Linked DNA regions of Homo sapiens. The protein of the gene in region 1 interacts with the protein of each later gene in a biochemical or structural test. Each region holds a gene or a part of one and is shown on either strand. Other genes may lie near its edges.

Region 1 (6,861 bases):
GTCAGTCACGTGATAATAACTATAGCTTGGGAGGGTGGCACATGAACTATTTGGGAAGGTCAAAGTCAGTTCAGCTCAAGACTATGAGAACCAGAAGCCCCTTTGTCCCAAGGGGGCTGGCAGCTGCAGTTTTACTGAGTCATGTTTTTAAGTTTCTCTATATTGGCCACTTTGTTATGACATATCCTGACATACCTGCTGTCCAGTTTCTTGCACTGAGCATTGGCCATGCAAGCAGATTTCTCTACTAGCTCTAAGTTCAACACTTCTACTTTTCCTTCATCACAGTCACTTTCACCGTATCTTTAGTCGATGGACAGATGACAAAGATATGACAAATATATAAACAATATATATAATGAAGTATTAGGAGTACACCCAACAGGAGAGACCAGAAGAGGCAGGACTAGATGAGGGCGAGACCTGCTCCTCTCAGCCCCTGCTCATTTCCAGGCCAACAATGAACAGATGGTGGAAAGAATTACACAGCACTCCACACAGACATAGATACTTATTTATTTGCATATTTAAAGTTTACACACATGCTATGACTCCAATGTTTTAAAAAAATAAGCCCTTAACAGCTCTGAGACACATGGCCTCTTCTGTATCCCAAGCAAATCCCTAAATGGAGGTAGAGCACGTGTTCCTATTTTTCACACTCTCATATGGGAGATAAGTGGTTAAGGAGGACTAGAAACCCAATCAGGCCTACCGGGGTGCCGGACAGACACACAGCATTCCTAAAGGAATGCCACCAGAGAAAAAATACAAGTCTGTACATATATCTTTATTTTCATACTTAAAAAGAATCACATACTCATTCCAACAGCTTTACCAGGCTTCGCCAACCCAATAAGTTACACACTCACTCAGGTACTAGGAAGGTTATTGCACAGCTCCTTAACTGATCGGGGTCAGGGCAGAGTGGTCACTTTCCCCACAGCCAGGCTCTGGATTTGCCTCCTGTGAAGACACCATGCCTAGCACAGGCTGACGGGGCGGCTGCAGTCGAACCTTGCCTCCAGATTATGAACCAGTATAAGTAGCACAATTCTCGTGGCTACTTTCACTTCAGAGTGTCATGTTTATTGATGTGGAGCTTTCTGAATAGGGAGGTTAAGGCACACCTGCTGAGTAAAACAAATATTTCTTGTGTAGCGTTCTAGATTGAGGGCAGCAGTCAATGGTAAAATAAACTTCAGTAGCATGTTCCTGTCAGGTTATATGGCAGCCCTGGCTCAAGGATTTCTCCCCCTGCACGATTCCTAAGACTGTTTGCTAGCTGATTCTTTGTTTTGGCAATTTGATGGTTTTGATGAATTTGCTGTGATCCAGGGGTGTTCAAGTACTTCTCTGAGCATTGGCCTCTGGCTGGGATTATGCTTCAACAGTCTTGAAATGAGGTCCCTGGCTCCCTCTGTTACAAAGTCAGGGAATGTGAATTCAACCTGGAGTACAACAAATGATAAAATATCACAAAACACAGGTTAGAGAGATCAAATAGTATAGATGTTCGGATCTTGGCCTGCAGTTCAGGCTGATAAGGAAAGAATTCCAGCAGATGTGCTGGGTCCTTTTCAGTTGCGTCTTACCCGTGATATTCTTTTGTAGGTCTCTTGGTATGTGTTTGCCTCAAAAGGAGGCTTCCCAACTAAAAATTCATAGCAAAGAACTCCAAGGCTCCAGAGATCCACCTTCTCATCATGCATCCGACCTTCAATCATTTCAGGGGGCAGGTAGTCCAGGGTGCCACAGAGAGTGGTCCTCCTGAAAACGGAGGGAGGCTCAGGTTGATGTGCTTCTCGTTTTATGATCACAACAGCTGCTAACAATCATTAAAGAGTCCACTAACACTGAGGTCTTCCCCTGGGCCAGATCCTGTGCCCTAGGAAGTAGCTACTATTATAAATTCCCATAGGAAACAGATGAAGCGAGGTGTGTAAGGTCACACAGCTAGCCATCAGGCTTAACCCCAAATCTGTCCAACTCCAGAACCTCCCTGAATAATCTAGAATGTAAGAAACTGAATGTATCACTACCATATAAAAGCTGCCATGCAAAGTTCTCTGTAAATACGATTTGGATTCTACATCTGCATGTGGATATTACAGATATGCTAAGAATCTTAAAAGCCTGGTCGCAATGACAATACACTAGAAACTGTCCCACTGTAACAGCACTGGGGTGGAGATGTAGACACATGCTGCCTTGTGATAGATACTTGGTACGAGTGATGCTGAAATTTTGAGGGTGGCCTATGAAGTACTCTTGCCAAAAATATTTAACCTGGCTGGGTGCAGTGGCTCATGCCTGTAATGCCAGCACTTTGGGAGGCCGAGGGAGGCGGATCACGAGGTCAGGAGATCGAGACCATCCTGGCTAACATGGTGAAACGCCGTATCTACTAAAAATACAAAAAATTAGCCGGGTGTGGTGGTGTGCGCCTGTAGTCCTAGCTACTCAGGAGGCTGAGGCAGAAGAATGGCGTGAACCCGGGAGGCGAGCTTGTAGTGAGCCAAGATCGCACCACTGCACTCCAGCCTGGGTGACAGAGCGAGACTCTGTCTCAAAAAAAAAAAAAAATTTTCTTAACCTGAATCTCTTCAGGACCTGAGACCTACATTCCAGTTTTCAGCAAATACGGGGAATAAAGGTCCAAGTTAAGTGGCAACACAATCAGAAAAGTCCTCTTTAAAGTGGGAGACTGGTCTGGCTTTAGACCACAGAGACAATCCAACCACAGAGACAGTCCAACCACAGAGACAGTCCAACCACAGAGACAATCCAACCACATAGACAGTCCAATACAAAGCATGGGCTTTGGTTGAGTTCTGATTTTACAAACCAGCTATAAGATGTCATGGACAATAGGAGAAATCTGAATGTGGACTAAATATTAGATACTGACAATGCTGTTAATTTTCTTAGGAGTGATCATGGTTCTAGTTATATAGGAGAATATCCTTATTTAGGAAATGCATTCTATTATAGTGCTTAAGGTTGAAGCATCATGATGTTTGCAACGTATTTTCAAGTGTTCACTAAAAAAGCAGATGCAGCCCTTCTGACTAAATGGGAAAAACTGCTGAACGTAGGCACTGTATAGACAGGTATGCCATCAACTACCAATTCCGCATTTTTATCGGTTTAGGTTTTTTTAACGAAGGTTGGAAAAAAGCTGGGAACAGCAGACAGCAAGCCAGAACAGTCTGTGTGGGTTCGTGTTGCTTTGTTATCAGCTGCTCTTCACCATGGAGGCTTACGTGGTCACAGCCCTGGTGCTGTGTTCAGCCAGGCCTGGCACCCACTGAGCACACAAACAGTCACTCACCACTGAATTGTGACGTAGGATTAAGAAGCTACCACTCTGGTCATCTAACCCCTCCATCAGCACCGACGGACTGAATCGGGGGTTCTCAAACTGAGGCAATAACCAGGAAATGATGATGATTAACATCTGGGATTTGGAGTGAAGTGACTATCGGTTATGTAAGTAATCTTTTCAAAAAGCAAGAAGCCATCTTTTCTATCACAATTCAACCGGTTAAGATACAGTTTAACTCTGCGATTCCATGAAGCCTGTAAGTCTTTATTCTGGTTTGTCTCACCAGATAACAGCTCCCACTAATGACAACCAGTTTAAAAAAAAAAAAAAAAAAAAAGACTGCAATAGCAGATTCAGTGCATTGCTGGAACAATTAGAAGTGCTCTGTAACAAAAGCAAAGGTTTTCTCCCTCATATTCTATTTTAGGCTATACTTTTTTTTTAACTAGCTTGATTTTTAAGTCATTTGGCTATAATTTGAGTCCTCCTCCAAAGTTGACAAAACTTCATCGGTAGATATATGTTTTAAAATGCCCCACTTCATGTGAAGTTTCAAAGCTTATTTAAACTCAAATTTAAAACAGTAAAGATATTGTAGTTCACTTGGAAAGCTAAGATTTGAATTGTTTTGAGACTGACATCTCTGCTTCAGCTGTGACAGGGGATAAGAAAGGACTATCCCTACTATTGACAGAGGCAGACTGAAGAGAATCTCTCACCACTGCCCTCAAAGCACCACCAAACTAATTTAGTGTTTCAAGTTCCCTGATATGGCCTGCACTCTGAGCTCTAGATCTTTGTCAGTGCTGTCCTCTGAACCATCTCCCCATCTCCTCATCCAGGAAGCAGCAGAGGTGAAGAGTTCCTCCCACTCAACATGTGGGCACTTCACCTCTGTCATATACGTGTCCTATCTGTTGACTCATTCATCCCTTCATTAGCCTCTAAGGACATTAAGCATCTTCAACCCTAGGCCTAGAACACTGCTAATAGCCCCAAATCTCCACAGAATAACACTTTCTTGCAAACCCTAGTTTATTATTAAGCCTAAATTACTCCAAAGTACTTCTGGGTTAGCCACCTACCCCTCTTACAGCACAAAATCTACACTGAAATATTTTACATTTAGCTCACGGTTAGCTCCCAGGGCTTTGGTAAACCAAACAACTTCCACCTCTAAAGTTACATACCTGGAAGATGGAGCATGTACTGACCACCCAAAATCTGCAATTTTAAGCTCTCCAGCTGATCCAAGAAGTAAGTTCTCTGGCTTAATGTCTCTATGAATAACTCTCTTCGAATGACAGTAAGACAGGGCATTTGCCAATTCTGTTATATACTGTTAAAACAATATTGAAAGCCTATGTTTTAGATTTTATATAACACAAGTTAATATTAGACATCTCTTCCGAAAGGAACACAACATAGATTTAACATGGTTTGCAGGTTTTGGCCAGGCACAGTGGCTCACACCTATAATCCCAACACTTTGGGGGACTGAGGTGGGAGGATCACTTGAGCCCAGGGGTTCAAGACCAGCCTGGGAAACATAGCAAGACTCCATCTCTACAAAAATTTAAAAATTAGCTGAGCGTGATGGTGCATGCCTGTAGTCCCAGCTACTTGGGAGGCTGAGGCAGGAGGATTGCTTGAGACCAGGAGGTCAAAGCTGCAGTGAGCCATGATCACACTTCAGCCTGGGTGACAGAAGGAGACCCTGTCTCAAAAAGGAAAAGACAAAACAAAAAATACATTTTGCAGGTTTTAAAGCAAGGATTGTAGAAATTATATAGGAGTCTACACACACACACACACACACACACACACACACACATCAACTGAACCAATTTATAGTGGTTAGCATGAAGTGAAATTACCCAATGCTTAGTCATCTCTGCTAATACAGCTGGTGTGATGTTGAAAGTCAGAAAAGACATTCAGCCAGTTAGAGCTAGCTCTTAGGCTGGTGCCATGTCAATGCAAAACACAGTTACTTTTGCACCAACCTAAAGTTACAACACCATACGGCAACAAATGGCCCTGCAGCCAGGAAGTAAGACAGTGCTGAAGAACTGGTACAAATTAAGGATTCAGATGTGTAAATACTGCCTTTTTCTTTTTTAGAAAAAAAAAATGAACTTTGCAAGTATAGTCAATTCCCTTTTTTAAAACCAAGGTCATTCTGTGACAGAAGAATTTGTTTAAAGCTAAAAATTTACTTCAAGAATATCAGGAGAAAAAATTATCCTGAACAATAAACAGAAACTAAAAAGCAGTTGCACTGACATATTAAATAGCATGTTAAATTTTGGGTTACACTAAGTCAGCATAGAAGTACATAAGAAATCAGTCCTTTTGTTAATTTTATTTCCTTAAGTTACTATCTTTTTTTTTTTTAATAGAGATGGGGGTCTCACTATGTTGACCAGGCTGGTCTCAAACTCCTGGCCTCAAGTGATCCTCCCATCTCAGCCTCACAACGTGCTAGGATTACAGACATGAGCCACTGCACCCGACCGAATTACCATCTTGTAAGAAAAGTTTTCCTGGCCAGGTGCAGTGGTTCATACCTGTAATCCCAGCACTTTGGGAGGCCAAGACAGGTGGATCACCTGAAGTCAGGAGTTCGAGACCGGCCTGACCAACATGGTGAAACCCTGTCTTTACTAAAAATACAAAAATTAGCCAAGTGTAGTGGTGCATGCCTATAATCGCAGCTACTCGGGAGGCTGAGGCAGGAGAATTGGTTGAACCCAGGAGGTAGAGGTTGCAGTGAGCCGAGATCATGCCATTGCACTCCAGCCTGGGCAACAAGAGTAAAATTCCGTCTCAAAAAAAAGCAAGAAAAAGAAAAGTTTTACAGTCCCTATCGCTAAGATTTAGCAAACAAGTCCAGTATGTATGTATTTACTTATTTATTTTTAAGAGACAGGGTCTCACTCTGTCACCCAGCCTGGATTGCTATGGCATGATCATACCTCACTGCAGCCTTGAACTCCTGGCCGTAAGCAATCCTCCCACCTCAGCCTCCTTCCGAGTAGCTGGGACTACAGGTGTGTGCCACCATGCCCAGCTAATTTTTAATCTTTCTTTTTTTTTTTTTTTTTTTTGTAGAGACAGTCTCCCCATGTTGCCTACGCTGGTCGCTAATTCCTGACCTCAAGTGATCCTCCCACCTTGGCCTCTCCAAGTGCTGAGATTACAAGCGTGAGCTACCATGCCTGGCCCAGAATTTATTTTAACATACAGATAACTGTTTGAATATTGAAAAAATATATTTAGCTCTGCCTAAAGTTTGAGAAGAGTTTGCTTTCTACAGCAATTTCTAGACAGGATTGAACATTATTTTACATCAAAAAGGTTTACTAAACAGATGAGTAAAAACCAAATGTCACTGTCAGAATAAACACTTTTCATTCTTTCAGCCCAAAACCGGAGATCAAAATTCAGACCACAATAAACTGAAGGCAAATACAAAGAAAGCTGCTCTTCTGACCACCAACTTTGAGTTGCTGATGCTTTAATTGCACACA
Region 2 (8,531 bases), on another chromosome or scaffold:
AGCGTTTATTCGAAAATGTAAGCAACCTTTATTATTTTACTATCCTGAAGGATGTAATAAACCCATGCTTTTGTTCAACCTAATAACTGGTAGATTACCCAATCAAGTAGTTAACTCAGGTTAGCTACAGGAAAAAAAAAACAAAAAACAAAAAACACAACAACAAAAAAACGCCATTAGCCTGGCACAATGTGCATTCAGTAACCTGTAATCAACTACTAAGTAAATTACAGAAGCAGAAAACAGAGCTGCATGTTTGTTACAAAAAAAAAAAAAAAGGAGAAAGCTTATAACAACTTCCACTTCTTAAGCCATATTGACTCACATTAATTTAGGATGCCTGAGGCTATGAGTATGGTACCCTGAGGTGTAAGTGAAGGTGATCTTCTCTTCTCACGTCTATGAACAATATTTTCCCAACTTTGTTTTTAAAGTGAGAATTAGGGTATAGATAGATGCTTTGTAATTTTTCCATCCAAAAGCTTGAATAAATGGTTAATTGCTGACTTAAATTGCAATAAAGAAGTGTCCTAATTTCAAACAAGGATGCTCACTTTCAGAATCTCATAATCTTTTCAAAATTCTATTTTATTCATAAATAGGATAAAAATCTTTTTGCAAGCTTCACTAAGTCTCTCCATAAGCCCCTGCCCAACAGATGCAAGTTCAATAGCTAGAATTCAAACCAGATAATTTATTGGCTTACAAATGAATTGGCATCTATAAAAATAAGCCTTCTAAAAAGGCTTCACGCTGTTTAAATCCTTCTAAAATGCTCTGGCTAAGCTTGCCCACCCTTTATCAATGTAAGACTGATAAAATGCATTTTCATTATCAACATAAAATGGAAGCATCAAGATAGTTGAAATGTTAGTTTAGAAAGTCATTTGCAGTGACATTTAAAACAATTTATTTGAACATTTGACTCATGATAAGAATACTGCCTATTACATTAAGATTGGCTGTTCAGAATTCACTGGAGCCCTATTCTCCCCCTCTGTGACAGTTAACATCTTTTGATATTAAGGGTCATTACACATCTAAAATGAAAAAGAAATAAGAAAAAAGAACCCCACGCCATTCTGAGCAAGTGCCTATTAAAATGACTGATCCTTGACATTTTAATGCAGACTGTATGATGGCTTCCTCTCTATTGCCCCCTGTGAAGCCTTTCCCTGTATTGGTAATAACTTTGCCGATGTCCAACCCTGTGGAACATTCATCCTACCTTTTCCCCACTCTGCAGAATGCTTCCCTCTAAAGAATCACCAGAGAACAGGGAAAATAAACAAATCTGCAAACAAATTCCCGGGCAGTTCACATCACCTCCCAAAGGACACTGACAATAGCTGAAGAGACCACAACACACAAACTCGTTTTTCAGCCAGCCTGTAATGTTCCTCCTATACACACTCTGGAAATCCTCAGCTCCCTTCAACTCCGGAGCAAGAGCCACCAATATTCCAGGTCAGCCACCTATATAATATGCTCACCACGAGAGAAGACTCAAGGTAAAATTAAACTGACAGAAAAAAGGAATTTTCCTTGTTAGATCATCAAGCCTCCGGAATCATGCAAACATGTGTGTATGTTATGGTGTTTACGGGGACCTAACTGAGAAACGTCGTGGTTCCAGGGGCTTCCCTCATGTGTCAGGATGGACTTTATCAGGATTCTCATCCTACAAAGCTACCATGTCAGTCACAAAAGACAACTACGCAATCTGTTTCGATGTAATAAATTCAGGAGTTGAGCTGTATGGCAAGCCCATCTTAGAAGTCCTCAACACCAGGAGAGGATCTGTCCTAGTTAGGAGCAGAAAGCAGATCTCATAATATCCAAGTTGTCTGGAAACATGATATATGGTAGGGCAGTCTTTCCAGCTCCCATTTTGTTGGTGCCTTCACCTCGGGTTGTCAGGGCTGGGGTTAGGGAAATTGCCTCTTTCCGTCTCTATCTCTTTTAACTTCGCAGCGAGAGCTGGAAGCAGTGACTGTTCCCATCACCTAGTGTCCTTCTGTCAGGGGCCGCTTCGGTAGCTACAGAAGCCTAGCCGCTGGAAGCTTCCTTCCCCGACACTCCATACCTCCATGCCACACCTTTTAGGCAATAACCAAATGTCATTTTGTTCTTTCCCCTTCTCCTGGGCATTATACTGGGAAACTGTTTACGCGCATCGACCCCGCACACCTCCAAAAATCTCCACTTTCCGGGCTCCAAGCAGCTCTCCGCTACTCAGACAGCCCAGGCTAACACCTCGGATTTCCCCATGCAGTTTCCTCTGCAGCGTCTCAATCACAAGGCTGTACGGGCGGCACATGCCAACGGAACCACCACCCCTTCTGCTCCCTCGGGGACTCAAGCCTGCTCTCGGTCAAAGCACAGAAGCGGCTTTCAGCTCCGGGCAGGCGGCCGGGGCGTCGGGGGTACTGGAAGTGCCCAAACCCAGCGGTGCTGCCGCGCGGGGAAGCGGAGGTGCGGCCGCAGGACAAGCGCGCCTCCCAAGTCCCTGGCCACCTGCGATGCGTCCTCAACTCGCCTGCCCATCGCCACTACCAGAAACCTCAGACAGCCCATTGTGTGGGCAGGCAGCGCGCTCCCCCGGCCCCGCCGCCCTCGCCTACCTTCTGTCGGTCTCTCCGGAGCGCCCGCACAGCCGGCAGCCCGCCTCCAGCGCTCTGCAAAGCGAAGGAGGACGCTTTGTTAGGGCTGGAGAAACGGGACAATACTTCGCAGCCGGCGCAGCGGTTCCGGGCGGGCGTCCTTCAAAAGGACGCGAATGGGGACCCGCGTGAGCGTCATTTCCATATGTAAGGGGCCAGCTCTTACAAAAGCGCGGCTCTCGGGGGCCGCGGGCTGCAGCGCGCATCCTCCCCGCCCCCGCCGGCCCGCCCCCGCCCGCGCAGCCCGCGCCTCCGGGACCGGCCCCTCCTCCCGCCTCCGAAGCAGCCCCGTCCCCGCCTCGTCCTCCCGCCCGGCCGCTGCTTCCTCCCGGCCCGCAGGGATTGCGCCCCGCTGGCCCCGGACCCCAAATGGGAAGCCCCCGAGTGATCCGGTGCCCAGTTCGCTCCGGGCTCTCAGGGCCTCGCCGACGGCGCGGGGGCAGCGCGAGGCCTCCGTGCACCCCCAGGCCGTGGGTCCGGGTCCCCGGGGTTGCGCCACTTACTGCGTCCCGGGGCTCAGGCGCCCGGCGCCGCCGCGGGAACCATGGCCGCTGGCGCACTCCGGGCTTGGCGGCGGCAGCGGGACGGCCGCGCCCAGCGCGCTCGGCTCCCGGCTCGGCCGCGGCCACCCGGAGCTCTGGACGCCGGGGAGGAAGGGCCGGGCCCGCGCGGGGAGGAGGAGTCAGGGCGACGCCGGCCCCGGCGCGGCTCCTCCTCTGCGGCCCGCGCGGCTCAGGCAGCGGAGGGAGGAGCGGGCGGCGCCGCCTGAGCCCTCGCAGACGCGCCCTCCCGCTCCGAGCGCCCGCCTCCGAGATCTGAAGTTAGAAACGCCGGGGCTCCGGGTGCGGGTGTAGGAGGCTGGCGCCCCGAGGTCGCCACCGAGCTGGGGCTGGCGCTGCCACCCTCGCCCCTTGCCTGTCCGCCTCCCTTTCTTTCCCAACACGCCTACACTCACCCGCACCGCGGACACTCGGGCCGCAGCGTCTTCGCGCAGAGGAAGGGCCCCCGCCTTCAGCAAGCGGGACTTTAAGGGGGTGATTTCCCAGCCCTCGGGTGTCGATTGGCCATCAACATTGGAAAGGGTGTTCAGGAGGCAGAAGGGCTGTAGAAGTGACTCGGAACCCTGTAGAGCGAGCGCGACCCTCCTGCCGGGTCTACACTGGCTTCCGCACCTGCCCACCACGTCCTCACAGGCTCCCGCCCCTGTGCAGCCTTCTCCGGGTGAAGCTAACCCTCGGTCGCAAGCCACACAGGACGAAAACTCCTTGGAGTTGGTGGTTCCCAGCCCAACAGTTGCTCGATATTAATCGCCTCCTACCTACTACCCCAGAGTCTGCGTTCTCACTCCCCCATCCCTACACTTCTGATCTCATTGCAGTCAAATAGGATCCCAAGTCCAGGCCATGGTTCTTTTTGAGCTGCAGGGTTAAATGTGTTGCCCTTGAAGGATCCGCCTGATGGATTACAACCCACAAGTCTGGTTATTTTAGCAGGAAACTGGTGATTCCTTTTCTACCGAGAAAGCAAGCAACAGACAAGAGGAAACCAGCATTCCTTGAGAATCCAGTGCGCTAGAAACTCGACAGAAATTATCTTATCTAATTCTCACATCACTCTTAGGAGGCAGACATTATTTTGCAGATGAGGAAAATGGATCTCCCAGAAGTCAAAGAGCTTCCTCAGGATCACACAGCAGGAACTCCACAGAACTGAGATTCAAAAGCAGATCACATATGTGGCAAAATTGCATAGAACTGAATATACACTCACAAATGAGAGCACGTGAAACTCATGAAATTTGAATAAGACATTTGGACTACACTAATGTCCATTTACTGATTGTAATATTGTTCTACAGTTATGCAAAATGTTACCATTGAGAAAAATTAAGTGAAGCGTCTATAGGGAATCTCTCTATTATTCCTTACAACTTCAAGCGAATTTACAGTTACCTCAAAAAATTTTTTTAAAAATTTTAAACATCTCAGTCTTATTCAAAAGCCCAGGCTCTCTTCTTTCAACACGGTATATAAGCGTGCCTGCAGAATAAGAGAGATTTATGCTCCTCTCTCCTTTTTAAACAGTCTTGAATAAGTACACATACACACACAAACACACACTCATACACTGTATGCATGGTTGTTCAGTCATCCAGTAATATGATACAACACACACACACACACACGCAGTTCATTAAGAGGATAGCTAACCTGTTACCAGAATACTTACATAGAGGTCATCTTGTAAGACAGACAATAATGCTCACTGGGCACTAAAACAGCCAACAGTCTTGGAAGGTAAGAATGAAGAGGTGTCTTTCTTGTTTCACCTAATCTCTGCCATGGAAGCCTCATCCTACTGGTTACCTCTCCAAGCATCGCTTTTTAACCTGCAAGAATCCTTAAGGATGATATTGATCATTAGTTTAAAACAGTGATTCCTGGGGGTCAGGGGATATTGGAAGTGGCATTCACTCCCTGTGCAGGAAGATCAGAATTGCTGGGGGTTGTGTAATTTGAAAAACACAAGATGCGCTTTCTTGAGAGGAGTAAGTGGGGTGGAGTTAGCCCTGGGACTGGGAACTGGGATCACCTCCAGCCTTGCTACAAAGGAGGGAAAGCATGGAGCATGGTTACCGCGTGGTGTGGGTTGGCAAGAGCAACTCTACCAAGAAAGATGATTTATTTAACACAATGGGCCTGCAGTTTGGTTTGCACTGAGCACATGGTTAGTCTTAGTCCAAACTGGAGTCATGGGAAAAAAAAGCAGAGACTTCCTTTAGAGCCCATTACTTGATCTTTTCTCTGTTAAACACAAAATAACAGCAGAAGTAGCAACCAGGCTCCAGTTCTACATTATAACCAATATAAGAGAGAAAAGAAGAAATGTAAATATTTATTCAGAGTTATCACCCTTTACAAACAAAACTTCACTCTTATCTGTTGCAGCTTATCTGACTCTGATTTTTACTCTCACTTTACAAAGAACCTTGTTCAAGGACCTAGGATCCTTGAAGTATTTGTACGTGAAGTTTTTGAAGGGTTTTCTGCCATATTTCACAGTACGGAACTGGCTTTCTCAGATGGTTAAAGCTCTAAAACGTTAACTAAAGAATAATCCAGGGAAGAGAAAGTTACTCTTTGTTTCTTTTCTTTCTTTTTATTTATTTATTTATTTATTTTTTGAGATGGAGTCTTACTGTGTCGCCCAGGCTGGAGTGCAGTGGTGCAATCTTGTCTCACTGAAACCTCCACCTCCTGGCCTCCTGCGTTCAAGCGATTCTTCTGACTCATCCTCCCAAGTAGCTGGGATTACAGATGTGCACAACCACATCTGGCTAATTTTTGAATTTTTAGTAGAGACAAGGTTTCACCATGTTGGTCAAGCTGGTCTTGAATTCCTGACCTCAAGTGATCCTGCCTCGGCCTCCCAAAGTGCTGGGATTACAGGCGTGAGCCACCACGCCTGGCCTACTCTTTGTTTCTTCTTGAAGTAATTTTGAAATTATCAGTTTAGAGTCAAGACGACAAATGAGAGAGAGAGAGAAAAAGAGAGAGAAAAAGTCAGGCTTTGTAAATTTCCTGGAACCTGAAAAGTTATTTTTTTTTTTCTTAGCCAAAAAAAGGCTCTAACCAAACATAGTCTACCCTCTCCCAACTCACAGTTGGGTATAAACTATTTTTTATTCACAGAATAGTCAAACAGCCTGTCACTCATGTAGCAACTCCTGGCTCCTTCTAAACTTCTTTAATCGATATCTTTCTTATTTCTGTGACCATTTGAACTCAGCAGGACAGTTTTCAGGCAAGTTGCAGAGCTGTGTCAAAGACAGCCAGATTGTTAAAGTAGATGATCAGTTATAGTTTGGCCCAGGAACTCACTCGGTGAAAGAAAGGGACATCAATGATCTCCCCAAGGCCCTAAGGAAAATGAATGAGGAAAGGAAAAAGGGAGAAATTTGAGTTCCAGACATACAAGTCAGGGACTTAAGAGTTCCAGCAGCAAAATGTTGGTGGTTAAGAACCCAGGAAGAAAGAGGAAAAGTATAGGAAAGGGAAGGGAAGGTGACAGAAGGCAAACTGATTTACACTTTTGCCCCTGGGGGACACCTATTAGAAATTAGGATTCTCTATTCATTTTCCTTATGAAGAAAATGAAAGAAGAGGAAACCAGGATTCCATACAATTTATTTTTTTAAAGTAAGCATTGATTGCCTACCCTGTGCCTAATACTGTCCTGAAAGTCACACAATGTTCAAAATAAACATCAGGCTGGGCATGGTGGCTCACACCTGTAATCCCAACATTTCTGGGGGCTAAGGTGGGTGGATGGCTTGAGCTCAGGAGTTCAAGACCAGCCTGGGCAACACAGTGAGACCCCCCTTCTCTACTCCTCTTTTTTTATTAGCCAGGCTGGGTAGCACGTGCCTCTGGTCCCAACTTCTCAGGAGACTGACATAGGAGCATCGATTGAGCCCAGGAGGTCAAGGCTGCAGTGAACAACGATTACACCACTGCACTTTAGCCTGGTGACAGAGTGAGAACCTGTCTCAAACAAAACAAAATGAAGTAACAATCAACCTTGGTTCTTACCCTTGAGGAATGCATCATTCTCTTTTGGGAAGGTAAAAATATGCACTCATGAGACAGTAAAGGAGTGATGTTAGGTGGCATTGGACTCTAATTACATTCTCCAGTTGGGGGACATACACACGCTACAGCATGGGAAGAAGAGAGCAATGATTTCCCTAAAACGTGGCTTCCATTTGATCATTCTGACCATTGCTTTTCACTTCAGGTCCTAGATCTTTTTCCTGACATTCAAGGTCCTTCCTGATCAATGCAAAGGTATGTATCCTCAGTGTCTGCAGGAAACCTACCCTCCCTCCACTCTGCTCATGTGGACCTTCTAATCTTCCCTCTGCTGCTCTTTCAGCCCAGATCATCAGTCCTCATGTGTATTGAATGCCTTGTCTCTCTGTTCATTGTTTGGCGCAGCAACTGAAGCATAGCAGGAAGTGGTTATTGCACATGTGTCTTTTGGATCCCATGGGCTGAGCACTTAGGTACTTTCCAAATACTTGGCATTCACGTGGAGAAGAGATGTTGCATATGTATACATGGGATGGGTGGGTGGGGGGTTGATCTTTACTTTTGGAATTATCCCTTTTCATGTGGCTGGATGCTGGCAATGGTCTACTGTTTTAAAGACTGCAAGTGCCAAAGGACTGCCACTGTAGCTTCATTTGAAGGGGGGAGGAAATGAAATGTTACTTTAAGAAACATTGGCGTTTGCACCCTCATTCACTCTTCTTTTAAATTTTATTTTTATTTATTTTTTTCATTTTTGGGGGTGGAGTCTTACTCTGTCACCCAGGCGGGAGAGCAGTGGTGGCATAATCTCAGCTCCTCCACTGCAACCTCTGCCTCCCAGGTTCGAGCAATTCTCCTGCCTCAGCCTACCAAGTAGCTGGGATTACAAGCACACGCCACCACACACAGCTAATTTTTGTATTTTTAGTAGAGATGGGGTTTCGCCATGTTGGCTAGGTTGGTCTTGAACTCCTGACCTCAGCTGATCAGCCCATGTCGGCCTCCCAAAGTGCTGGGATTACAGGAGTGAACCACCACGCCTGGCCCCTCCCTCATACGCTCTTAAACACTTAACAAATATGACATGAAATCTTTACTTTTTTGTTAGAATAGTTTTGAATGGAAAATTAAACATTTTTCCCCAAGCAAGACTACTTTGAATTCTCTAGAGTTTGATGTGCACACAAAAGAAATGGCAACCCAGAACCATACATTTTAAAACATTTCTGTTCAGTAGAAATATAATGTGAGCCACACATGTAGTTCAAAATTTTCT

What was found.
Region 2: of the proteins of AURKA (region 1) and NIN, one has a biochemical effect on the other in vitro, tested with the Homo sapiens proteins (2 studies listed by BioGRID).

What each region holds. Positions count from the first base shown.
Region 1 is NC_000020.11:56,368,890-56,375,750, forward strand, and holds the end of AURKA (aurora kinase A), read right to left. Parts: intron 4,668-6,861; coding exon 4,519-4,667; intron 1,771-4,518; coding exon 1,596-1,770; intron 1,452-1,595; coding exon 1,269-1,451; 3' UTR 501-1,268; downstream 1-500. UniProt on the Homo sapiens protein: Mitotic serine/threonine kinase that contributes to the regulation of cell cycle progression.
Region 2 is NC_000014.9:50,827,840-50,836,370, forward strand, and holds the start of NIN (ninein), read right to left. Parts: upstream 3,324-8,531; 5' UTR 3,167-3,323; intron 2,679-3,166; 5' UTR 2,625-2,678; intron 1-2,624. UniProt on the Homo sapiens protein: Centrosomal protein required in the positioning and anchorage of the microtubule minus-end in epithelial cells. May also act as a centrosome maturation factor.